Homo sapiens: one gene and its partners. The protein of the gene in region 6 interacts with the protein of the main gene of each other region in a biochemical or structural test. Each region holds a gene or a part of one and is shown on either strand. Other genes may lie near its edges. The genes, in order: CAV1, HSPD1, KDR, FCRL3, NOX4, PTPN11 and KIT.

Region 1 (3,500 bases), on a different chromosome or scaffold from region 6:
ATGACTGTTATACTGATATTAATCACCAATTGCTCTAGAATGCTTTCAAGTTGAAAGGGATCACGGAGGCATTAAACCTTTGTACTATAACCAAAACTGATCTGATTATCACCTGCGTGCATTTTCTTGACTGTTAAAGAAAAATTTGTGTCTGTGCATATTTAAGAATCATTACATTCCAATTTTAGAAAAGCAAGTTATGAATGCATATTTCTGTTTTTCAACAAAGACCTCCTTTCAGATATCCTGATTTGTCTCAGTGCTAACAGAATCATCTAAACACATTTTTCCTCTCATGACAATAGTCCATGGTGAATCACATAATCTTATCTATTCTTCTTTAATGATACATTTCAAAATATTCACTTTGGGCAGTAACTATGTAAAAAGATGGATAACATTTTAAACTTGTTAGCCCTTAATTTCTATTAATATTACAAAAGAGGAATTGGAGGCCAGCCTGGTAACCATGATGATCCCTTCAAATTCTAAAATTCTGTCATTTTGTGCATGTATGTTTCGATCCACAATGCCACTTCGCATTGTCTTCATTTCACATCTGGACCATGATGCAATTACATCTGAACTCTTTTCTGCTCAACTAGACTGGCTACTTTTCATTACCTTCTGTACCTTCACCAGAGTCATTTTACAAAAACGTCACCTTCATTATACCACACCGATGCTTGCAGTCATTTATGGCTGTCCACTGTTGACATGATGTCCAAACTTATCATGAGTGCTGGATTTACAGACTCCGCATTTTACTATGATCAGTCTTTTCACCTTTATCACCTACCACTCTGCCACATGAAATCTCAAATCCCAGTCTGATTGAGCTACTACAACTCCCTTGTGGGAGACATTCTTGTCTCCATGCCTGGCTCGTTTAGAATGCCTTCCTGTGCTTTTGCCCCAGCTATTTGCAATCCATCTGTCCTCCATGACCCAATTCAAACTGCACCTCCTTCATACCATTCTCCATTAAACCAGCTGCAATACATCCTCCTTCTCTGACCCTGCTATCCTTTTCATGGCTGGGTCTCCCTAACACTTCATATTGATACCATTCCCTATTTAAAAACCTTTTTGTTATGCAATATTCAACACTACTGTATTTACTTTTGATTCCTTATCATATATATTATATTTGGTCTGTTTCCAAAATGATGAGAAGGCTTACAGTAGAGATCACATAAGACAGTATGTCAGTTAAAAGGGGGAAGTGAAAATACAGAACCATATGTGGGAACATGAATTAATGAAACTTAAAATCCAGCTATAGATTTGAAACTGCTTCCTGGCAGTCAAGGCAAAAAAAAAAAAAGGAAAAAGGACCAATCAGTTTCCATGTAGCAGTGACTTACTGTTTTGGTTGTATGTATGTATTTTTTAAAAACACTTTTTACCTGTGTGCATGTCGTCTCACTAACTGTAATCTTTGTGATTGCTAGGATTTATTGTAGGAATTACATAGCAAAGCATCTAATCTAGCATATTGCATGGGTTTAATAAATAAATTAATTGATGGCTAATTTTATCAGAATTATAGATTTGAAGCCATTTTATTTATCTAGAAAATCAAAATAAGTACATAATAAACATGTGAATAACAATGTGAACAAAAGATGACACAGAAATCTCAGAGGGAGAATGAAGGGTTTGAGTTTGTGACCACTTTAATTAAAGGAAATTTTAAAAAGTATTCACAAGCTACTTAATATTTTTGGGTAAATGTCTATATTTGGGTAAATTGTCTCATAATGTGGAGCAGCAAGCTTTTAGTAAGATGAGAAATTAATTTTATTGGAACTGGATTGTATACTATAATGTGTGTCATTATTACTAGTAAAATAGGTAATAATGCTGCACCTTCTTGAATATAAACTCATGCCACACATGAGTTTTCTTTCCTCTCCAGAAATGAAACTGGGGTTTCATTTCTTCTCTAGAGTTTTGTTGTTGTTTTCTTTAACTTGGCAAGGGGATGCTTTTACAATGCAGAGAACACCCTAATCTGGCACTGTCCAATAGAGATTTCTGTGCTGATGGAAATGTTCTATGTCTGTGCCACTAGCTTTACCTGTTGCACACTCACAACGTGGCTAGTGTGACTAAGGAACTGAATTTTAAATTTTACTTGATATTAATTACTTGAAATTTAAATGGAAACACAAATGGCTAGTGATTACCATATTGGACAGAGCAGCTTTTACAGGGCTGCTTGCTTTTAGGACCAACTTTTCCTTACTTGATTGGGTACCTTTAACAGTAGATTCCATTGGCCACTGGTTCTTTCTTATTATGTGAAGTTTTAAGCTACCATGCATTAGCAGTAAAGCTTTGGGTGCTTTTAAGAAGCACCCAAAATTATTGTCATGATTTTTTTAAGAAGTCTGTGTTGTTGGCCAGGTGTAGTGGCTCACATCTGTAATCCCAACACTTTGGGAGGCCAAGACCAGTGGATCACTTGAGGTCAGGAGTTCAAGACCAGCCTGGCCAACATGGTGAAACCCCGTCTCCACTAAAAATACAAATATTAACCCGGCATGGTGGCGTGCACTTGTAGTCCCAGCTACTCAGGAGGCTGAGACAGAAGAATTGCTTGAACCTGGGAGGTGGAGGTTGCAGTGATCCCAGATCATGCCACTGCACTCCAGCCTGGGTGACAGAGTGAGACTCCGTCTCAAAAAATAAATAAATAAATAAATAAAAATAAAAATAAAAAAAGTCTATGTTGTTGAAAGTAAAATTTAGGGAAATTTATTATTTACTGTCATGGAAACTGGGAGAGAATCATCCCTGTTTCTGTTATTTTGTTTGTGCTTGGACTTGAGGATACATATTTATAAAATAGGAGTCTCCATAAGATGTAGATAGGACCCTGTTCATCGGCCAGGCACTCTTTGGGCAGAATTTGCATTTGTAGTCTTGGTGTCTCTCTGTAGGGCATTCTCTGAAGTCCCCTCTAGGCCAGGCATCTGAGTGAGACTGCCAAATTCTTTTCTAGGTGGATTTTTTGGTTTGACTGTCTTGTTTTGCTCACAGTTCTATGAGCAAGTAGTCAGGGTTTGGTTTCTTTAGGCTAGCAGGAGCTTGCTCTAGCTTTTTCTTTTAATTTCTTTAATTTGAGGATCCCCACACTTGCTCTTTGAAATGCTGTTTTGTAAACTGCTATTTCCTCCAAGCCTGTTATGTTTTTTTTCCATCTGTGTTGAAGTCTCTTTTCCCAGTGGGGCCTTTCTTTCTCAACTTAGTCATGCTATGTGTGGAGACCCACATCCACACTGTTGGCCTCTCTGACTCATCCCGGGAGATTCGCTTGCTCCAGGGAATCTCACTCACAGTGCAGTGGAACAACAGGGAGGATCCAGTGAAGCCAGCCCTCTCTGAAATCTGCCTCTTTTCCTGGCAACTCTCCTTCTTGTTCAAAGCCACATGAGAAGGGTGGGGGTGGGGGAAAACACAAATATCCTCTCCCTTTAAGGTAATGTTTTTAG
Region 2 (3,757 bases), on a different chromosome or scaffold from region 6:
TTACATTCTTTTATTTTTAAATGTACAATTATTATTGACTATAGTCACCCCGTTGTGCTATCAAATAGATCCTTTTTTTTGTACCCCAAACACAACGAAATTACCAAAGCCAAAGGTATTCTAGGTACAGGATTTCAAGTGACTGACTTTTCATGTGATGATGGACTTTATTTCTCCCCTCTACTTCTGTCCAAGGTAAGGACAGCAAAAATATTTGCCTCAATGCCTTGCTTGCAGCAGCAGCCCAAAGGCCATGCTGAGGAGCTGGAGTTCCCTCCAACCTCCCAGATTTTACAGCTCCAAGAGAGATTACATCCTTGCACCGGGGAAAATAGAAACTGTCTTTCCCCATTATCAATGGAATAATGTAGTTCAGTCTGCAACAAAGAGAAACATGAAAATATCATAGATAGGATAATGTTTTACACACATGCCAGCCTGCCCTTCAACTGGCTTTCAATTTTCAGTATCTTCTAATCATGGAAATGCTAACACAATTATTAACTTTAAACAAATTTTTATTACACAAAGGTTGTCACATAATTGGATACTTCTCTACTTTGTACACAATTATTCTCACTCTCCACAGAAAGGCTGCTTAACTTCTCATCTGGTGGTGGCAAGCACTAAAATCCTGATTTTAACAGAATAGTAGTAAAAATGCCTCAGTGATTTAAGTTGAAAGCAGTACACTGGTACATGGCTCTTGTACCCAGTATCAGGAATGTACAAATGTTTTTTATTCAAAAATACAAAATAAATTATCTGTAGGCATGGACAATGACAGCAGTAAACCATTATATATTTTGTCAACTGAAACCAGTAACTGATGGTTATAGTGATTTTCAGCCAGCCTTTTTCTTCATTTTCTCCAACTGACTTCTCTGAAGTTATTGGTGAGGAACACTGCCTTGGGCTTCCTGTCACAGTTCATTAATAAAGGTAAAGCACTAGTCTAGGAGTTAGAACATGCCACCTCCCATACCACCTCCCATTCCACCCATTGCACCCATTCCAGGGTCCTTCTCTTCTTTAGGAATTTCTGTGACTACAACTTCTGCTGTAGTTAACAGAGAGGCCACACCAGCAGCATCCAATAAAGCAGTTCTCACAACCTAGAAAAAAATTTAATTAATTAGTTTTCCCTTAGTAAAATATGAGCAAGACTTATTGAAAATTTCTGTCTGGGCATGGTGGCTCACACCTGTAATCCAGCACTTTGGGAGGCTGAGGCAGGTAGATGACTTGAGGTTAGGAGTTCAAGACCAGCCTGGCCAACATGATGAGACCCCGTCTCTACTAAAAATACAAAAATTAGCCAGGCATGGTGGTGCATGCCTGTAATCCCAGCTACTCAGGAGCCTGAGGCAGGAGAATCGCTTGAACCCAGGAGGTGGAGGTTGTCACTGCCTGCACTCCAGCCTGGGCGACACAGCGACTCTGTCTTCAAAACAAAACAAAACCCTGTTCTGCGTATCTTGGAAAGTATTCTTACTGCCAGGCAGGAACAGGGTGTTCCAGATCCATCCTGATTTTTTCCTGCCTCCAGGCATGGACTCAACTGCTACTCAAGGGATCCTGCTTCCTTTTAGTGGAGTATTAAATATCTAGGTGCTGGAAATGTACATGAGAATTGTTGATGGGCACAAGAGCTATTGCTGTTGCTACTGCTATTAGACTATTTTTCTGGTGACAAAATCAAAGATTTGGGATGTGAGGATACATTAACAAAATGAACAACAAAAGAATTTTTAGAAAGTGTTCAACCATTTACCTTTGTTGGGTCAATGATTCCTTTTTCCACCATATTCACAAAATCTCCAGCCATAGCATCATAACCAACTTCTGAGGAACTTTGCATAATTTTCTCAACTATCAAAGATCCTTCAACACCTGCATTCTTAGCAATGGTCATTGCTGGAATTTTGAGTGTTCTTTTAATAATTTCTATACCTACAGAGAAATTTCAGCAAAATTTTAATACTTTCATTTGTAAATATTGTAACACATTTATAAGTTGTGAGGATATTGATGTAGGGAAATCCCAATCCTACTACAGATCAAATCATTTCCTCTGAAAAAGATGTGATGCATGTTTAGCTCTGACATTAGCACTATTCTACTTCTGTTATTCAGGAAATGAATGTGCTATTCCATTTAGGGGACTGCAACATTATTATTCTAAGAAAAACTAAAATCAGGCCACAAACTCATTTAAAAGGTAACTTTTTACCAATTTTTTGATCTTCATTAGCTGGAGTCAATGAGTCCAAGGCTGGAATGCATCGAAGGAGGGCACAACCCCCTCCCAAAACAATGCCTTCTTCAACAGCAGCTCTTGTAGCATTAAGGGCATCTGTAACTCTGTCTTTCTTTTCATTCACTTCAACATCACTTGTCCCACCAACCTAAAGACGAAAAGAATTCCAGTTAGTATGGCCTCTTCATTCAAGATGCTAATTGCCAAGTCATTTAAAAGCAGTTTACTTAAAAAGCAATCCTGAGGTGGGCGTGGTGGCTCACACCTGTAATCCTAGCACTTTGGGAGGCTGAGGTGAGTGGATCACTTGAGGTCAGGAGTTTGAGACCAGCCTGACCAACATGGTGAAGCCCTGTCTCCACTAAAAATACAAAATTAGCCAGGCATGGTGGCAAGTGCCTGTAATCCCAGCTACTCGGGAGGCCAAGGCAGGAGATTCGCTTGAACCCAAGAGGCGGAGGTTGCAGTGCGCCGAGATCGCACCACTGCATCCCAGCCTGGGTGACGAAGAGCTCAAAACAAAACAAACAAAATTCCACTATGAAGTTAATTCCTCAAGTATTCGTTTAGTTCTATGGTACTACTGGGGAATACTACAGAAGCAAAATCATTCTTGGACTCAGAACCCAAGAAACTTATTCATAATAATGAATGTTACCTTCAGCACAGCCACTCCATCTGAAAGTTTTGCAAGCCGTTCATTCAGTTTTTCCTTTTCATATTCACTAGTTGTGACATCTAACTGCTCAATGATTTCTTGAATACGTTTTTCAATTTGAGCCTTGTCACCTTTTCCTTTTAAGAGCATGGCATCGTCTTTGGTCACAATGACCTCTCCAACTTTTCCTAAGTCATGAGGCTGAACGTCTTCAAGATTCAGGGTCAATCCCTCTTCTCCAAACACCTACAAAAAGAGTTAAACGTAAACCTGTTGTAGGTTACAGTTTCTGCCATTATACCAAGTTTATTAATACACCATGCAAGAGAATCATCAAAATACTTTATTTCTTTGAAATGAGAGATTTTAAGATCACTGTTAGTCCAGAACAAGACTTGAGTATAGTCTCTTTCACTGCATTTCCAAATTCTCAATTCTCACAACTGTGGTAATTATTACCAGCCTTACTTGAGAAAAAAACATCGAAGGTCACACTTACTGGTAGAGCCAGGACAAGACCATAGGCCTTGACTCTCAAGTCCTACATCCCTTGTAGCATACACTTCTACCTTTCAAAACTGAGCTCGGTAGCTCATGCCTGTAATCCCAGGACTTTGGGAGGCGGAGGCAGGCATATTGCTTGAGTCCAGAAGTTTGAGAAGCCTAGGCAATACAGTGAGACCCGTCATTACTAAAAGTAAAAAAATTAGCTGGGCATGGTACTGCACCTGTAGTCCCAGCTACTTGGGAGGCTGAGACGGGAGGATTGCTTGAACCCAGAAGGTGGAGGTTGCAGTAAGCCAAGATCGTGCCACTGCATTCCAGCCTGGGTGACAGAT
Region 3 (3,500 bases), on a different chromosome or scaffold from region 6:
AAAATTAAGGTGATTTTCTCAAGGCCAGTTCAATTTAATTCCAGTTCAATTACAGTTGACCCTTAAATAACACAAACTTGAACTACATGAGTCCACTTATAAGCAGATTTTCTTCCACCTCTGCCACCCCTGAGACAGCAAAACCACCCCCTCCTCTTCCCCCTTTTCCTCAGCCTACTCAACGTGAAGACAAGGATGAAGACCTTTATGATGATCCACTTACACTTAATGAATAGTAAATATATTTTCTCTTCCTTACAATTTTCTTAATAACATTTTCTTTTCTCTAGCTTTATTGGAAGAATACAGTATATAATACATATAACATATAAAATATGTGTTAATTGACTGTTTATGTTATCAGTAGGGCTTCCAGTCAACAGTAGGCCATTAGTTATGTTTTGTGGAAGTCAAAAGTTATACCTTGATTTTTTTTTTTTTTTTTTTTTTGAGAAGGAGTTTCACTCTTGTTGCCCAGGCTGGGGTACAATGGCACGATCTTGGCTCACTGCAACCTCCACCTCCTGGGTTCAAGCAATTCTCCTGCCTCAGCCTCCTGAGTAGCTGGGATTACAAGCTCCCACCACCACACCAGGCTAATTTTTTGGATTTTTAGTAGAGATGGGGTTCCACCATGTTGACCAGGCTGGTTTCGAACTCCTGATCTCAGGTGATCCACCCACCTCAGACTCCCAAAGTGTTGGGATTACAGGCGTGAGCCACCGCGCCCGGCCTATACATGGATTTTTGACTGCAGAGGAGGGAAAGTTAGGGGAACTCCCCTGAGTTCCCCCAATCCCTGAGTTGCTCACAGGTCAACTGTATATTGCTAAATGTTTCCCCAGTTTGCAAAGCTCATGCTTATTCAAGTAGGCCTCTCAGCCTTGCAATAAAATGAAAATTTAAAAACTACCTTAGCTAATACTATTTATCATAGTAACAATCCTAATAGCAGCAATAACTATAATAAGTAATACTAAATGAACTCTTACTGTATATCAGCACATCTCATCTTTAAAGTTGAGGTTTGAACCCAAGTTCCTGACTACAAAGCTATGCTCTTGACCTCTAGGTCATGTGGCCTCCCTAACAAGAAAAACTAGAAACTATCTTCTGAATGAACAAAATAGGAATCACTAAGTGACCTAAATTTATTTAAATTATCTCACTTGTCAAGGCACAGAATAATTTCCAAGACCATAGCTTACCATGGACCCTGACAAATGTGCTGTTCTTCTTGGTCATCAGCCCACTGGATGCTGCACAGGTGTACAATCCTTGGTCACTCCGGGTTACACCATCTATAGTTAAGGTGCTCAAAAATTTCTTCATCTCACTCCCAGACTGGGTTTTTAGGTCTCGGTTTACAAGTTTCTTATGCTGATGCTGAAAAAAAGAGTTGACTGAACTTCCAAAGCACAGCATATAACATTACCCAATAACTTCTAGTAACACACAGAATTAAATCTGGGCTTTGGTAAACATTATTTAATGCTAAAAACAGGGACACCAGAACTTTTAACCTCATGCAGACAACAAATATATTTTGTTTCAGGAGAAATAAATGGAACCAACTGAATTAGGATTTTTAAAACCTCACGTGGTGAAAGTGAGATGGATATAAACTGCAGAAACACAAGTAAATGTGACCACTGTTTAAGGAGCAGTGTATCTCATGCCACCTCTTAAAGAGAAATTCCCTTAAAAGGAATGTAGATCAAAAACTTTGGAGAACAGAGAAATGACATAATGTGGAAAGATGTAATCACCTAGAGAAAACTAATATTCATAGCCTGGCTATTGCAGAATAGGACAAAATTCCTGGTATTTCACCTTTTGGTGGGTGCTATCTGTTCTGCAATTCCCTTAAATTGTGTGTGTGTGTATGTGTGTGTGAGTGGGTGTGTATGTGTGTGTGTTTAAGGCTCTTACATTTTATCTGGCCAAAGAGGCCCCTATCTCTCAAGCAAACTTCACTGGGGCTTATTATCTAAGTATTTGGAGGTCTGGCTTTGAATCATTAGCGTTACCTTCGAAGAAGGGTATTCCCAGTTGAAGTCAATCCCCACATTTAGTTCAGTTCTTGCTGTACAATTTAAGACAAGCTTTTCTCCAACAGATAGTTCAATTCCATGAGACGGACTCAGAACCACATCATAAATCCTATACCCTAGAGCAAGTAAATTGAAAAAACAGAACATGAGAGAGCAAATAAGCCTATAACTTTGCACAGATTTATTTTTTAAAGTAATGCAACTTTAAAACATGCCACATTGTTTTTCCCTGCAGGCCTCACCAATACTTGGTAGCTCCCAGGAAAATGGCCAACAGAGGTTTACAAAGCACTACCTTCACAGATCTCAAAGATGTTGTAACCCAGTGGACAGAAAAGTAGTAAACTTTCAGTGGTCAGTAGCCCTAGGCCAGTAGGGCCAGCTTTAGCAAATTGCTGAAGTTTCCATAAAATAGTCATAATTGAAATAATTGATAGCAAGCAATGCTCTGAACATTGAATTCTTCATAAAATGTGCTCGAGTAATACCATTCGCTTTCATCCTTTTTTTAAAAAGTTTTCTTTTTCTTCCTTAATCTTGGCAAGAAAAGAGACAACCTCAATTGCACATGGGTTTATTTGGTAGAGAAGAGCAGATGAATTGCCCAACACCATATCCTGAGTTCCTATACTTTTCAATATCCTTCTTCACTCTATGTTGTTATCTCCAAGATCTTAATACAAGGATATGTTATTAATGATATGGAAAGGAAATGTCCTCTTACCTACAACGACAACTATGTACATAATAGACTGGTAACTTTCATCATTAATTTTTGCTTCACAGAAGACCATGCCAGCATAGCTGATCATGTAGCTGGGAATAGTAAAGCCCTTCTTGCTGTCCCAGGAAATTCTGTTACCATCAGGAACAAATCTCTTTTCTGGGTATCTCTGGGTAATAAAAAGACATATCAAATATTTAATCCAGTACCAAAAATGAGAGCCATGTACAATGATCACTGAAGAATTCATCTTATTTTTAAGAATACTAATTAGTTTTATTCATTGCATTTGACCCTTCCTAAAGGATCCTTAAAACTCATTGTGAATATTATAAACAGGTTACCCATCTTAATATTAGCTTAAAATTATAAAAACTTAAGAGACGATTGGAGGAGATGCAACTTACTGCACAAAGTGACACGTTGAGATTTGAAATGGACCCGAGACATGGAATCACCACAGTTTTGTTTTTGTTCTCAGTAATGTACACGACTCCATGTTGGTCACTAACAGAAGCAATAAATGGAGATCTGTAATCTAGAAGAAAATTTAGTTTTATTAATGAGTTAATAGTATTTACTAGAAAAGTTGGTCATTTTTCAGGTTCCTAAACTCTAACCAGACAAGTGAATGACTGGAAGGGACACCTCACACAACCAAAGGCATCCACAGATTATTCTGCTGATAGATATCTGTGCTACATGAGGGTGTGTGTGTATGT
Region 4 (3,987 bases), on a different chromosome or scaffold from region 6:
TCACTTTCATTTCCACCCATGAGGCAAGAGCCACAGTTCTATACACACCTGCAAATGGCCCCCACCCACATTGCCATGTGGCCCCAAATACCTGATTCTTCCTTGCCCTACAAGGGTGAACCAATTCCCAGAAAATGTTCTTGAGAAATCTTCACATGTCTTTTCACAAAAGAGGAATCCCAGACTTGAACCCCTTTTTGCCTGATGGCCCCTGGGTCACCCACAATTCTTTGGAGGTAGATGGATAGACAATCCAGCATCATGCTGCTGCCCTATCTCTTTATTTTCCCCACTGGGGTCAGTGCATCAATCCCCATGTCTGCTTACAACTCTGCCTAGGATCCCTGCATTAACCCGGCCCTCAGGCATTCTGCCTGGTGGCTTGACTTTAGACACTCCCCTTCCATTCCTCACCAGGTGAAAATTCCACATGCACGGCATCACTGAGGGAGGATCCTCGGGTCTTACATTGGTAATTTCCAGGCTCTGTAATTTGGATCTTGTCATGTTTTATTTTCAACAACTTCTCATCGTGATACCAATATGTGTCTCCCTGGGCTAGGGAATGTGATATGCTGCTGCATATGAGAGCCACTTTTTCTCCTTTGAAGGCTGTGGACCATGGAGGATTGAGGAGAAGTACAGCTTTTGGGGCCACCCCTAAACAGGAAATAGAAAGATGAAGGCAGGGGAAGGTCAATGGGAGGTGGGCACAGCACATGGGGAGCCCAACCTACAGTCAGGAGTTTTCCTGGACTAATTTCCAGTCAGGACCAGGGTGGAAAATTGAGCAGAAATAACCTAGGGAAATGCCTGGGAAAGAATCTGTTCTTCCTCATCCATTTCCTGGAGGTGGGCAGAAGGGTATTATAGGGGAGAGGTCTCAGTTTCCTGGCATAGCCTCAGAAAAGCTCAGGAGATGTGATTTGCCATTGGGCAAAAACTGCGAAGGCCTCAGAATGTGGCTGATCCTGAAATTCTCTTGTCCTATACATTTCTGTCCAGATAAAGGTGAACCTGGGATGTATATACCTCAGAAGTAGTTTCTAGACTCCAGAAAATTACTTCCTACTTGTTAACACTTAAAATGAATAAGATTTTCTCACTTGTATTACTTTTATATCTCTCTTAGCTTTGAAAGTCTATGGGGAAGGCAACTTTACTCTCCATTTAAGTTGGACACAGTAAACAATGGAGGGATATAAAGAATTTAAATGGAGGAGGATGGGTTGCCTGAGAAGTCAGACTTGTGTATGGAATTGCAACTGACTGACAGGCATGGAAGTGAGGTGTGGCAGTGGCATGAGCTCTTTTTGGAGATTTATAAGGATTCTGCTGTAGCATCTTCCTCCGTGGATGGGATCTATTTCTATGTCCTTTGATAGCAGCACTAGCTTGGACATTCAGAGGGAGATGTACTAGAGAATATGGAGATCACATATGAGATTCCTTCATCATCAGCCTCTTGCCTCTGTCCTTTGCTCTGCAAGTGTTTCCTTCCTGTAGTCTGAGGAATACCGGTAATGTAGGGAGAAAAAAAAAAAAAAACCTAGAGACTGAAAAAGTCGGAGGAGGCTCTGTTCACCCAATATAGTAGCAGATGTGACCCCAGAGCATTAGCATTGCTGATGGGATGCGTGCCTGCAAGGGTTAGGGCAGGCTGTGTGGGCTGAGGGGACCAATATCCAGAGACCAGAGGGGCAGAGAGAAGGAGAAACTTACCTGATTGTTCTCTTCCAGGAGCTGTGAGGGAGCAGAAAATGACAATCAGACACTCTCCGAAACATTTTCTAACAACCTAACCACAACCACTTCTTTTGTTTTTCCTTATCATTTCTTTGCTCCCTTTTTATATCATCCAGAGCCCCTAAACAACAAAGAAAATGTCATATAATGTATTTTACAAACGTGATGGCTTATGTCCAAGGCCTGACCTCATCTCTGCTATTATTTACTTGGCCACGGCACACTTTATTCTCTCCTTCTCTTCTCTGAGTGCAGAGGCAGACAAGGACTTACAGAAATGGTTTATCCTCCTTTCGTTCCTTGGGCTCCTATTGTTCCCCTCACTTTTTCAATCTCTGATTAAATTTTGGCTTAAAACTTCTAGAAAACAGTGATGTTTCTCAGTAAACCTTCCTTCACGTGCCTAGGTTTTTAGAAGTAACTGCTCATCTGAAAAATTATTTAGTCTGAGGCTTAAGAGGGAGGGTGGGATATAGAGTTGTGGTTTGGCAGAAGGAAAAATCCAAGTTTCCTATGAGGTGAGAAAAGCAGTGGGTGAGAAACCAAGGTCAGGATATCTGGCTTGCTCTGATGGTTGCATTTGGAGCCTCTTGGTTGTCCAGGGAACCCAGCTCTGCTCACTTCCCATCCCTTGCTATCTGTCTCTGAACCCCAAGTAGAAGCAGAGATAGAAGCTCCTTGAGTTTTTCCCTGGTCACCTTTAGGAACTGAGGCCGTGGCCCCATTATAGCCCATCTACTCACTCAGGATCAGCAGCAGCAGCCACAGAAGCATGGGCACCGGCCGGGCAGAGGGTTGGGAAAGTCTGTCTCACCAAAAGCCCGACTTATCTCCAAGAAGGAGGGCAGGAAGCTGCTACTCAGATGAGACCTGCAAGAATCAGAAAAGGGAAGAAGAGCTTAGTGTCATATTTTGCTTTGGGCTCTGAAAATGTGAATGTGGCTACCTTCCTAAATGCTGTTTGTATCTCAATCCCGGTAGTGATACATTTTTAGAAGTTGGGGCTCATCTTCCATCAGCTGCAGTCTCTCAGGAGTAATGTCTCCAAGACTGTGCCTGGGTTCTCTAGAAATATCAAGTTGTGTATTTGCTAGTATTCAAATAATTCTTTCTGTATTTTTCATATGGGAAACCCCTTCACTACCTTGTCTTCACACAGCCTTTGGTTCTGCATGCAGCTCCTAATGTAGGCAAGCTTAATGAGCGTGGTGTGAATCACACAGTCAAGGTGTCAAGCATATGCCTTTTTGACTTTCACATAAGTTGTTATGAGGCTTCTGAACAGGAAAATAATACAAATGTACAGATCAAGGACTTCCCGTAATCTCACCCAGATCTGCAAATTAGGAGATAAATCAGCAAGCGTACCACCGTTTTTAAAGCCAAAGCCCTTCTCAGAAAGGGCTTTGCAATCAAAGAGGTTCCACCCCATTATTTTGTTTCAGGTCCTTTGTGTTTTTTTCACAGTGTTTATAACAATTTGCAATTATTTTCTCTATTTCCTTGTTTGCTTTCGTGTCTTCTTTCCCACTAACATTTAAGGGCCCCTTTTCTTACCCCTTATATCCCCCGCACCTCTAACTGTTCTTTCTTGAAAGCATTCCTTTAGTAAGTATTATTTGAGGGACTATTGAATAAAAACTCTGAACCAGTGTTTCTCAACCATTTTTTCGTTATTGCTCCCCTAAGGATCTTTTTTAGACAATTTTGTTTTTAGCCACCCCCTTTTTCCATGAAAATTTAATACCACAAATATACTATGTATGTGTTTATGTGCTGCATGTATAGCTGTGTTTGATACATTAAAAAATTAGTTTTTTTCATCTTCCCAAGAGTCAATTCTTGCCCCTTTGAAGGTGATATAACTTCTGTTAGGAAGGCGTGTTTTAGACTTAGAGGTAAGCCATTCTTGGGAATCTACCTACCAGGATAAAGTTGTCATCATTCAGATACCTTTACATTAGAAATGGGAGATGATCTCAGATCAAATGTCCCATCCTCAGGGTGCCCAACCTTGGCAGGTAATGGAAAGAGGGTCCTCTTTTTTAACAAATATTATTATGTTCTTTCTCCCATGGAAGTCACCAAATTTTATCATTCTCTATATGTTTATGTGATTGTATAATGCCTATTTTTCTCATTAGATAGTATTACAAGGTTTGGGAACAAGCCTGGTTTGTTCTTCATTTTGTTTCAATGCCTAACAGAGCACTTGTCACATACCAATTTGTCAATAAGGAC
Region 5 (4,024 bases), on a different chromosome or scaffold from region 6:
GGCTATTAGAAAATTGTGTGAAGTCTAACAGGGACTTGATATGAATTCATTTTGATTTTTAAAACTGAGGACTGCAATCATTAATCAGTTCATTAAATTAATTGGAATAAGTATATTGCATGTAGTGAGAGTAGTAGTATTTTTTGAAATTTTAGTTTTAATTATATCCTATGGCCTGTGTTGTAAGATTTTTTATTTTAAGAGTTTAAAAGCCATTCGATTAAGCAACTAGTAGTAAACTTTTCTGTCTCTCATTAGTTGTTAAATCTAGAAAAGTTATTGGTTTAACAAACCTTTATTGGATATCTATTTTGCATCAGATTTTTTTCTACATGAATGACATTTTTTTCTCTCTCTTTTCTAATACTGATTTGTTGCAGTGTCGAATAGGTACCTGGGTCAACTCCACACACTTCTCACTCTTCACTGGACCTCTGGTACAAGATTGAGAGGATTCCTATTACTTACAAACAGACTAGGTATTAAAACAAAAAGATTCCCGAATAGAGTGAACCTAACCTAGAGCCCCTAAGAATTACATCAGCTTTAACCATTAATTCCCTGGGTTCTTCTTATTCAGTAATGTCTTAAAACCTTTTTATCAGTATGGGATGGGCGGGCAAGGGGATAAAGAAACTGGCGGCTGGTGGGAAGCCTTAGGTAAGGCTGTCAGGGGGGCTTTAGTTTGGGAGTGGGATAATTTGCTGAGGAAGGGTGGGAGAAACGTGAACTAGCACACAAAAGGCTGTTTCCGGCTCAAATTTCGTTACCAAGGCTCTTTGAGATGAACTTTTTTGGGGGAAAACAATCAGTCTAAAAGAGCTGTGTCTTCTTGTGTGTGTGTGTGTGTGTGTGTGTGTGTGTGTGTGTGTACAAGGGGGCGGCGAGGGTCCCCACTTTTAGTATGAGTAGCATTGTTCACATGTTTGCCAGTATTTTGGAGCCTGGCAGGCCTGGGTAGAGGCTGCGGGGGACGCCTCCAAGTTCCCACCCGGGACATCCTGAACAGCAGCAGCCACAACAACAGGCTCGCCCCTAGACAAAGGGGCCGGCGCGGCGGAGCAGACTGGTGCAGCCTGGGCCGCGCGCTCAGAGCGCTGGGCGTCTGGGCAGCTGAGTGGGCAGAGCTGACCCGGTGCGGGTGGGAGTCAGGGCGCCCGGAAAACCCGGCTCTGGGTAGCAGACCCCGCCCGGGCTGGCTCGGCGCCGGGCCTTCGGGCTTCCACTCAGTCTTTGACCCTCGGTCCTCGCTCAGCGGCCCGGCAGGCCGCACAACTGTAACCGCTGCCCCGGCCGCCGCCCGCTCCTTCTCGGTCCGGCGGGCACAGAGCGCAGCGCGGCGGGGCCGGCGGCATGGCTGTGTCCTGGAGGAGCTGGCTCGCCAACGAAGGGGTTAAACACCTCTGCCTGGTAGGATGGCGGGCTAGGCTCTCCTTGCGTTCTCTCTGTCCTGCAGTGATTTTGATTCATTCTCTGAGCGTGCACGGGTGGGAAGCTGGAAGTGGAAGTTTTGTCTTAATTCGAACATTCTCAACTTACAAAACTTTATGCTGGAGATAACAATGAACACTCCCCCTCCCACCCCCTCGCCTGTCCCCCAAATGCATGAGAATTTTTCTGCACATTGATGGGAGAGATGTGGAGGAAGAGGGAAGAGGTCATTTTCCGTGAATACAGCTTTTCTTTTTACCCTTTAAACATTTTTGCTCCCTTTGTTCTTTTCCCAGATTACTTCTGTTTGCTTGGGGTATGGTGATGTCATTAATTTCTTAATCTCATTTTGTACGGCAGGGGATAGCTGTAAATCATTTAGGAAACCTATTTGCAACCCAAATGCTTAGTCTCAGGTGAAAGGGCTGGGTAAAGTCAGATTTGTTTTCCTCTGAGTGGTTTTCAGCTTGCTGGTTAATTGAAAATGCTTTCTGCAGTTACTGATTTAGGTTCCATTGAAAGCACTGTGTCGAAGAATTTACCTGTGGTTTCTATTCATCAGGTAATAATTATTTTCAATTTTTGTTTTCTGTCTCTCATGTCTGATTGGTTTAGTTCATCTGGCTCTCCATGAATGTCCTGCTTTTCTGGAAAACCTTCTTGCTGTATAACCAAGGGCCAGAGTATCACTACCTCCACCAGATGTTGGGGGTAAGTAAGGTGAACTTGGATAATCTGGTGGAATGGGTTTAACACTGGCAGACATTGCTACAGGTTTGGTCAGTTCCATTCATTAAAGAAATGTGCACTCTTCACTTTGAAAACCTTTGTTGTTCTCTAAAGTGGTCACATTTTCCTGATTTATCATTTACACTTGTACAAGTTAAAAAGATTGACTCTCTCAAGAACCAAAGGTAATATCTGCTGAAGTGAAACGAATGAACCTGCCAGACCAGGTTATTGGTGCCTTAAAAAAATTGCTACTTATTGCCAGCTGCTAAGTACCCTGAAGGATCTGATTCACTAGGAGGATCAACCAATAACAAGCTTTTAGTATATACTTATCAGTGCTTTTAGCCTGCTCATGAGCTTATCCAGAGGATTTCTGCACTGTTTGTTTTTACTGACAACTCTCACAAAATATGGGTCTAATGGGGTTATTCATTTCTGGGCAGTTCTCAGTGCTTGCTTTGGGTTAGTGGCTGATGATATTCCAGTATTCTACTATAATATGAGAAAGATACTGGGCAAAACTTTTTTCTGATTTATTTTATGTTAATATTTTTCTTTCTTTTCTATGATGTTTCTGATTTCATTCTTCTGTTCCATCTCCTTCTTATTTGACTGCTTAACAGAAGATAGTGTCACTGAAGGCATATTACTTTGCACAAGGAGATTGCGTTTTCTTTTTCTTTCTTTCTTTCTTTCTTTTTTTTTTTTTGAGACAGAGTCTTGCTGCGATGCCCAGGCTGGAGTGCAGTGGAGTGATCTCAGCTCACTGCAACCTCTGATTGCCTGGTTCAAGCAATTCTCCTGCCTCAGCCTTCTGAGTAGCTGGGACTACAGGCACGCACCAGCACACCTGGCTAATTTTTGTATTTTTAGTAGACACAAGGTTTCACCATGTTGGTCAGGCTGGTCTAGAACTCCTGACCTCAAGTGATCCGCCTGCCTCAGCCTCCCACAGTGCTGAAATTACAGGCGTGAGCCACCATGCCCGGCTGAGATTGCATTTTCTAAGCAACAAGCAAAAAGTGTAAAACCCTGCAAAAACTTAGGGAACCTGAAAAAATAGATTTTGCATTTTGGTGAGTGGGGGGGTGCAGAAAAAAACACATTTTGCTTTTTTATTTTTTTTCATGGTTTAATGACTACTTAAAATTAAGACGAGCTCAGACAAATTCAGTGGAACCAGCTCTCCCTTCTATGTTTTACATGGAGAGATCTTATTTATCTGTAATTCTCAGTACCCAGACTAGTGATTGGCACATATTAAGCCTGCAACAAGTTGCAGTTGAATTAATTAATTAATTTTTTATACAACAAAGTAATATCATAATCTGTTGATCACACACTTTATAAAGTTTAACTTCTAGGTTTTAAGCCAATGGGTTGAAAAAAATAGTCTGTAAAGCTAAACCCATTTCATTTATTTCTTTCATCCATCCAATCCAGGAACTGTCTTGAAACCTATACATTTCAGATGGGCACCCAGAGAGTAAGACCTCACCTCGCCCCTCAAGTTGCTTACAATATAATGGAAAAACCAACAAATAAATAATTATAATTCAATAAACAAGAAAAGGTTTCTTCTAATAAACACATGAGGTCTGATAACTTTTTGGTTTTGTTTTCTAGTATTTCCCCATTAGGTGTAACTTAATGAATAGGACGTTTTTCAGTGGAAGCTTTATCTCATCTATTACATAACTTGATGAACAACTTGGAGAAAACTCTTTAGATATAGAATGGTAAAATTTGCTCTGGATCACGAGGTATTTGTATTAATATAAAAATCTAAGAACTGGAAATTTATTGCAATAACCTAGAAAGCCATAACTGAACTTTGGATTTTAGCTTTGTGAGATAGTAT
Region 6 (3,500 bases):
AGCACTGCGGGCAGAAGGACAAAAAGCAGGGACAACAGAATCATTCATGGGGGTTTCAGACTCAAAACCAAGCCATTAATATCAACAGAAACAATGTCTACTCTTTGGAGCTATTTATAAAATTGTCTATTTATGTTTGAAAATATGTTGGCAAAAAGCATAGGGCTTTGGAGTCAGCCCAAACCTGCTCTTGGAGTTCAGCTTCTCCAGTACAACGTGCCTGAGGTAAGTCCCTTAACCTCTCTGACCCTTAATTTCTGCATCTGTGAAATGGGGACAACAGCACATACCATACAGAGTGCTGGTTGGACAGAATGAAACAGGAATCATATACAAAAAAATACATCAAAATTACTGAAAGAGGGCCGGGCGCAGTGGCTCTCACCTATAATACCAGCACTTTGGGAGGCCGAGGCAGGAGGATCACTTGGGGCCAGGAGTTCCAGACCAGCCTGGCCAACATAGCAAAACCTCGTCTCTACTAAAAACACAAAAATTAGCCAGGCATGTTGTCACGTACCAGTAATCCCAGCTACTCGGGAGGCTGAGACATGAGAATTGCTTGAACCCAGAAAGCAGAGGTTGCAGTGAGCTAAGATCGCTCAATTGCACTCTAGCCTGGGTGACAGAGTGAGACTCTGTCTCAAAAAATAATAATAATAAAGTTATTGAAATAGAAGAAGTAAATAATTTTAAAAATTAAAAACAAAACAAAACAAAAAACATTGTGCTCAGAGGCTGGCTCAATAAATGGTAGCTTCTTTAACAACTGGACAAATAAACACTTTCACATATATCTACTTGCCCAAGAAATGAATGAGATTTAGGAAACCCAATATTCCCCAGTATAATCATGAAGCCCAAACTGGAGAATCAGCAGCCCACAGACTCATTACAGAGGTCACAGCACAGCTTCCATCAAAGGCCTTGGTGGAAAAGCAGCTGGAATCTTGTGAAGCAAACAAATATAGTGTTAGGGGAGAAATATATTTATGGTAGAAGAGAACAGAATGGGCCGGGCATGGTAGCTCATACCTGTAATCCCAGCACTTTGGAAGGACAAGGCAGGTGGATCACCTGAGGTCAAGGGTTCGAGACCAGCCTGGCCAACATGACAAAACCTTGTCTCTATTAAAATACAAAAATTAGCCGGGCGTAGTGTCAGATGCCTGTAATCCCAGCTACTTGGGAGGCTGAGGCAGGAGAATGGCCTGAACCCGGGAGGCGGAGGTTGCAGTGAGCCAAGATGGCACCACTGCACTCTAGCCTGGGCAACAAAACAAGACTCTGTCTCAAAAACGAAAAAAAAAAAAGAGAGAGAGAGAGAGAGAACAGAATCACAATCAAAGAGATGAATCATAGAAGAGTAGAAGAAAAGAAGGAAAAAGAGAACCAAGCAAAAATGACTTAAGGGATCCTCAAGAGTCAGGCCTATTTCCACCACACCCCCACCACCTCAATACCTACAAAGCAGTCAACAGCTACAAAGCAAACATCATGAAGAATAAGGAGAAACTGCAGAGCCAGGATGAAGTTGTTTAATGCACAACTTCTGGTGGACTCAGAGATAATGCTGACTTAGTCTTTGCTGTTTTAACTGAGCATGTTGCCATGGCCATGGCCAATGGCAGTGCTGTAGGGTCTAGGAGAAATATGCCTTGGGATCAAAATGTCCCTCAATGCAGTTGCTCTATGCCTCAAACAGATATTAAATTCTTCCTACAGTTAAAGAGCTAGGAGTGGGTAGGTAAAAGCAAGCCCTGGGCGCTAGGAGACAGGGACAGGCTGTGGCCTAGAGGGGCAGCAGGAGCTGTCACCTGCAGTGCACCACGACCGGCCCTGCATCCATGATGCTCTCCTGCTTATGGTGCACCTCCTCCAGGAAGTCCAGCACGCCCCCAGGGTCGCTGGGCACGCCGTGGTCCGGCCAGGTCCGAAAGTGGTATTGCCAGACCGTTCTCTCCGTATTCCCCTGGAGTAGAGCCAAGAAAAACCAGAAAAGAATTAAATAAATCAAGAGGTTGAGGAATCACCCGGTTCTAAGCTTTCCTAAATCCAATGGAGAGGAAGAGAATCTCCCCAGGTTCCACTGAAAGGTCCTCTTCGTGAGGTTCCCAGAACTCGTCTCCTTTTGGGCAATCCTGGAGGCAACTCTTTGCCTCTGTCATAAGAACCAAGACGTCTGGCATGGCAATTTGTTCTTTCAGGTAACTATACCCTGAATCATCTCTCTGAATTACCAGCGACAGGTAACATCCCTATTCCCCTGCATCCCTGTGGCACTCAGCTCTGGAGGCAACTGAAACCTCTAGGGATCCAGGTCTCTCCTCCCAGCAGAAGAGGAAGCAGATGGGGAAACAGGCATTCACTTAAGACATTCATTCCTCTTTGTTATTTTTTTGATACTCAACCTTCCCCACCATATAAACACAGACTATAGTATCATTCTTTTTTTTTTTTTTTTCCAAGACAGAGTCTTACTCTGTTGCCCAGGCTGGAGTGCAGTGGCGTGATCTTGGCTCACTGCAACCTCTGCCTCCCGGGTTCAAGCCATTCTCCTGCCTCAGCCTCCCAAGTAGCTGGGATTACAGGCACACATCACCATGCCTGGCTAATTTTTGTATTTTTAGTAGCGATGGGGTTTCTTTCGCCATATTGGCCAGGCTGGTTGCAAACTCCTGACCTCAGGTGATCTGCCTGCCTCGACCTCCCAAAGTGCTGGGATTACAGGCGTGAGCCACCCAGCCTGGCCAGTATTGTTCTATTTTAAACTTATATTTAATGCAAAGCAGATAAGAAAACAGGCTTTGCTATCAGATGACTAGATTTAGGCTCCAATTCCAGGCACTCACACTCACGTGGCCCTTGGGTATCTCTAAACCTCAATTTCTTCATTTTGCAAAATGCAAATAATAATCTCTTTCTCTCTATCATAATGCAATTTTAAGGACTCAGTGAGCTCGCTGAAATACTCAGCCTCTGCCCAGCAAATAGGAAGAGACTCAGCACATTATGGCTATTTTGAGGATAATGATAATTAATAAAGATCAACAATGGCACCAAGGCTACAGAAAACCAAAAAGTATCATGTTTCTGGGTCTATCCAGATGACGTAATTGTAGCAGCACCATTCATTCCTACATCTTCTTCCTATATATGTAGAGACAATCTAAGCTAAGTGACTTTTTTTTTTGAGACAGAGTCTCACTCTGTCATCCAGGCTGGTGCACAGTGACCTGATCACAGCTCACTGCAACCTACGCCTCCCCGATTCAAGCAATTCTTGGGCCTCAGACTCGACTCCCGAGTAGCTGGGACTACAGGCATGTACCACATCCAGCTAATTTTAGTAGAGAAGGAGTTTCGCCATGTTGGCCAGGCTGGTCTTGTACTCCTGACCTCAAGTAATCCACCCACTTCAGCCTCCCAAAGTGCAGGGATTACAGGCATGAGCCACTTTGCCCAGCCTTAAGTGACATTTTTAAAAGGGATGTAAAAGG
Region 7 (3,259 bases), on a different chromosome or scaffold from region 6:
ACAGGTCACTTTTCACCCCTTCCCTTTCCTTTCAGGAGACATTTCTGCAGGTGTAGATGTCACGTCAATAAAGACAGTCATGACTGAGGGTGTGTGGGTGCCTCATTCTTAATAAGATTATGTGATTCAGGGTGCTTCCTTTTGTTTCAAGCTGAAGAACTCTCAGCCTCTGTTTGGGTTCCAGTGGTCTGGACGGTACCAATTGGGCATGCATAATGTTTCACCCACATGACAGCACCCAGCTCATACATACTAAGCACCTTCTCTGTATCTATTTTTCAATTTAAATAGAGACCTCAGGTTGTAAGACTAAAATGAGAAAATATCACACGTATGAAAATTCTTAATATCTGTTGAATCTCGAAGCATGTAAATCCTAGCGTGATCTGATAGCCCTGCACATATTTTATGAAAACTGCGTACAAAACTTTGTCAGGATGATTGCACTTTAATGCTTTAAAGTTTAATCTCAACGAATCTCAACAATCAAATGACTCCACTTGATTTATATATGTACATTTTATTAGAATTCTTCAGAACTGTCAACAATTGGACAACATACAGGAATAAAACACGTGGAACACCAACATCCTTTAAACTTACGCCGCTTATGTATTTACACATAAAGTTACTGTATATATAAAAAATATTTTCAAGGACTCATGGGCTTGGGAATATTCAAAAGACATTATTGCTACATTTCAATATTTACAAAAAAAGCCACAAAATAATTTCAAACATTAAGCCACTGCAAAGAAACATCTGATGTAAGAAAAAATTATAAAAATATAAACTTTCAAGAATATCCAAGACAAAACTCTCAATGAAGTGCCCCTGAAGTACCTAGACATCTATAACTAACAACCACTTTTCTTACTATCATTGAAGTCAATAGAAACACAAAGGAATTTTTCAGACAAAGTATGGCAAACAACAATCTCTTGGGTGACAACACAACCCCAAAATCTGTTAACTTTGGAAAGGTGCGAGAGCATAGAACTCCAGTGCAAATGGTTACTTCCAGATAACGGCCACAGTTCTCTAAATGTAGTCTAAGAAATGTAGAAGGGGGAAACCATAAAGGCAACATACCTGAATCTTTCAAGACAACACACAAACTCTGCCATGTACACATTTGCCTTTTATATTGGGCAGTGAGGAAGGGGAGTTTTTTGTTTTGTTTTGTTTTGTTTTTAAAGAGGTAAACTACAAGAATAATATCCAGGCTACAGTCTAAAGGGTAAAATTTAAATGTTTCAGTGAGACAGTAGCATTATGGAAGGTCTAAGGAACAGGTACAGTAAGATGAGTCTAAATAACAGAGTGCCTTAAGTGCAGGTGAACTGCAAATACATAGGGACTGATGCCTTCCACTTCCTCTGCACCACTATGGAAGCTTCTGGTAAGCTACTCTAGACAGCTATGTGAAAAGAAACAAGAGCAGTACTAATAATGAAAGCCAAGTTACTTTTCAGGTACTAAAGGACCCTCTTGGACTCAGGGCAAAAATACCCCTCCAAATATTTGTCTACACACATACAAACGTACATACACATATATAGATACTGGCCCGGTGTCCAGGACATGCCTGCGAAGGAGGCTAAACCTATACTTTATTTCCTGCTACATAAGAATCCAAACTAAGATGGCAGTGTTTTCCCACTCCTGTGGGAGCCATGCAGTGAATCAGTAACTTTGTCAAACAGCATCAAATCCATTGAGTACAATGCCATTCTGAAGCTGATAGGCTTGTTCCACAGAATCTACAGAATAAGTTCATCAGCTAAAAGAGGAGATTTTGTTCAAACTGTGCTTTGTGGTTATATTGTTTCCTTAAAAAATGGTATTAACTGTTTCCTTCAAACTTATATGGCTCTTAATCTACTTCTATACACAGTGGACATAATGCCAGGGTTGTATACAGAAACGAAACCTTATGGTGTTTTCCCCTCAAATGTATGAACACGGACAATTTATAGATGCGTATATACAAGTGCTGGCTAGGGAGGCCTTCTCTCCAATTCAATGCTCTAATAGCAAACTCTATTTAAAAACCAGGTCGGTAGTATAAAAGCTCATGCAGTGGTCCACAGAAGAGCATCTTTTGTTCACACTTGGGGATCATTTTTTTCATGGCCTATGTCTCATTCCCAGCATGAAATACTAGATTTCTTAAGCCCAGGTGTTCATACTCTGTCCTTTGTTCTAATGATGTTCTGTTTTCCACATAAAGGACTTAGGTTTTCAGCTTCTAATCTTGTATCATCATACTACTATGGATGGTTCTGAAGGCCAACTGTGATTACTACCATTTATTCAGGTAAACTATCAACCATATTTTTGGGCAGAATTGGAGAAGCCTTGGAAAGGACTCTGGCCCCCAGTCCATACCTCCCTCTCTTTTTCCAAATCAGAATGTTTTCTGTTCATGGTAGAAGCTACGTTGCTATTGGGAATATATACAGTTGGAACCTTTGCAATAGGATGGTGGCTGATGACAAAAATCATCGGCCACTAAAGTGTGCTCAGAAAGACAGGATTGCAGTGGGGTGCCCACTATCCTGGAGTTGGATGCAAGTTGAAAGAAAAGAAAATAACCATCATGGAAGCCAAAAGAAGAGATCATTCCTGGAGGGGTGACCCAAACACTGATTCTGCTCAGACATCGTCGTGCACAAGCAGAGGCTGGGAGGAGGAAGCGGTGCTGCCGACAGAATTGATCCGCACAGAATGGTCTACCACGGGCTTCTGTCGGTTGGGGCTGCAGTTTGCTAAGTTGGAGTAAATCTGGAGAAAACAAGCCCATAGTCAATACAGCAGTCCCTACAACGAACATAGCAACAAAAGGCATACTTACAGTGTCAAGATCACAACTAACTGATGGAAACTCTTAAGAGAGAAGTGGTTTCCAAGAACTTTGTGGCCAAAACCCAAGTCATACTGACAAAACAAATATAAGCTTTGTTTTCCCCCTTCATTTTTCCAAGGAAATAACTTTATACAAGAAGTGGGGACAAAACATGCACAAGCTTAGCTCTTCTAAAAGGGCACACCAGGCACCAAGCACTATCTTACCTATTTAAAAGGCTTGTAAATCTCTCCAGCAACTACAACCCAATAACCAATGTAATTTGCTGGGAAACCCACGGCCCTTCCAGGGGTCTCTTGTCAAGAATCAAAGCAACTGGGTGGAAAATGCTGTTCAATTTGAAACATGTTTTGACACCCAGAAGAACAAGCTTTAACCCAAAAATTATCA

The links.
Region 1: the proteins of PTPN11 (region 6) and CAV1 form a complex in vitro, tested with the Homo sapiens proteins (2 studies listed by BioGRID).
Region 2: the proteins of PTPN11 (region 6) and HSPD1 form a complex in vitro, tested with the Homo sapiens proteins (one large-scale study listed by BioGRID).
Region 3: the proteins of PTPN11 (region 6) and KDR interact in far-western blotting, tested with the Homo sapiens proteins (one study listed by BioGRID).
Region 4: the proteins of PTPN11 (region 6) and FCRL3 form a complex in vitro, tested with the Homo sapiens proteins (one study listed by BioGRID).
Region 5: the proteins of PTPN11 (region 6) and NOX4 form a complex in vitro, tested with the Homo sapiens proteins (one large-scale study listed by BioGRID).
Region 7: the proteins of PTPN11 (region 6) and KIT form a complex in vitro, tested with the Homo sapiens proteins (3 studies listed by BioGRID and IntAct, with this or other methods).

The regions. Positions count from the first base shown.
Region 1 is NC_000007.14:116,528,036-116,531,535, reverse strand, and holds part of CAV1 (caveolin-1), read right to left. Parts: intron 1-3,500. UniProt on the Homo sapiens protein: May act as a scaffolding protein within caveolar membranes. Forms a stable heterooligomeric complex with CAV2 that targets to lipid rafts and drives caveolae formation. Mediates the recruitment of CAVIN proteins (CAVIN1/2/3/4) to the caveolae.
Region 2 is NC_000002.12:197,486,084-197,489,840, forward strand, and holds the end of HSPD1 (60 kDa heat shock protein, mitochondrial), read right to left. Parts: intron 3,165-3,757; coding exon 2,919-3,164; intron 2,409-2,918; coding exon 2,234-2,408; intron 1,954-2,233; coding exon 1,775-1,953; intron 1,116-1,774; coding exon 963-1,115; 3' UTR 501-962; downstream 1-500. UniProt on the Homo sapiens protein: Chaperonin implicated in mitochondrial protein import and macromolecular assembly. Together with Hsp10, facilitates the correct folding of imported proteins.
Region 3 is NC_000004.12:55,112,096-55,115,595, forward strand, and holds part of KDR (vascular endothelial growth factor receptor 2 precursor), read right to left. Parts: intron 3,317-3,500; coding exon 3,186-3,316; intron 2,948-3,185; coding exon 2,779-2,947; intron 2,171-2,778; coding exon 2,031-2,170; intron 1,387-2,030; coding exon 1,209-1,386; intron 1-1,208. UniProt on the Homo sapiens protein: Tyrosine-protein kinase that acts as a cell-surface receptor for VEGFA, VEGFC and VEGFD. Plays an essential role in the regulation of angiogenesis, vascular development, vascular permeability, and embryonic hematopoiesis.
Region 4 is NC_000001.11:157,697,970-157,701,956, forward strand, and holds the start of FCRL3 (Fc receptor-like protein 3 isoform 1 precursor), read right to left. Parts: upstream 2,801-3,987; 5' UTR 2,693-2,800; intron 2,617-2,692; 5' UTR 2,521-2,616; coding exon 2,490-2,520; intron 1,744-2,489; coding exon 1,723-1,743; intron 661-1,722; coding exon 415-660; intron 1-414. UniProt on the Homo sapiens protein: Promotes TLR9-induced B-cell proliferation, activation and survival but inhibits antibody production and suppresses plasma cell differentiation. Enhances activation of NF-kappa-B and MAPK signaling pathways in TLR9 stimulated B-cells.
Region 5 is NC_000011.10:89,488,576-89,492,599, reverse strand, and holds the start of NOX4 (NADPH oxidase 4), read left to right. Parts: upstream 1-1,224; 5' UTR 1,225-1,353; coding exon 1,354-1,410; intron 1,411-1,621; exon of another isoform or gene 1,622-1,627; coding exon of another isoform or gene 1,628-1,747; intron 1,748-1,839; exon of another isoform or gene 1,840-1,915; coding exon of another isoform or gene 1,916-1,993; intron 1,994-2,046; coding exon 2,047-2,142; intron 2,143-3,606; exon of another isoform or gene 3,607-3,751; intron 3,752-4,024. UniProt on the Homo sapiens protein: NADPH oxidase that catalyzes predominantly the reduction of oxygen to H2O2. Can also catalyze to a smaller extent, the reduction of oxygen to superoxide. May function as an oxygen sensor regulating the KCNK3/TASK-1 potassium channel and HIF1A activity.
Region 6 is NC_000012.12:112,484,947-112,488,446, reverse strand, and holds part of PTPN11 (tyrosine-protein phosphatase non-receptor type 11), read right to left. Parts: intron 1,985-3,500; coding exon of another isoform or gene 1,973-1,984; coding exon 1,818-1,972; coding exon of another isoform or gene 1,814-1,817; exon of another isoform or gene 1,524-1,813; intron 5-1,523; coding exon 1-4. UniProt on the Homo sapiens protein: Acts downstream of various receptor and cytoplasmic protein tyrosine kinases to participate in the signal transduction from the cell surface to the nucleus. Positively regulates MAPK signal transduction pathway. Dephosphorylates GAB1, ARHGAP35 and EGFR.
Region 7 is NC_000004.12:54,737,957-54,741,215, reverse strand, and holds the end of KIT (mast/stem cell growth factor receptor Kit isoform 1 precursor), read right to left. Parts: intron 2,788-3,259; coding exon 2,659-2,787; 3' UTR 501-2,658; downstream 1-500. UniProt on the Homo sapiens protein: Tyrosine-protein kinase that acts as a cell-surface receptor for the cytokine KITLG/SCF and plays an essential role in the regulation of cell survival and proliferation, hematopoiesis, stem cell maintenance, gametogenesis, mast cell development, migration and function, and in melanogenesis.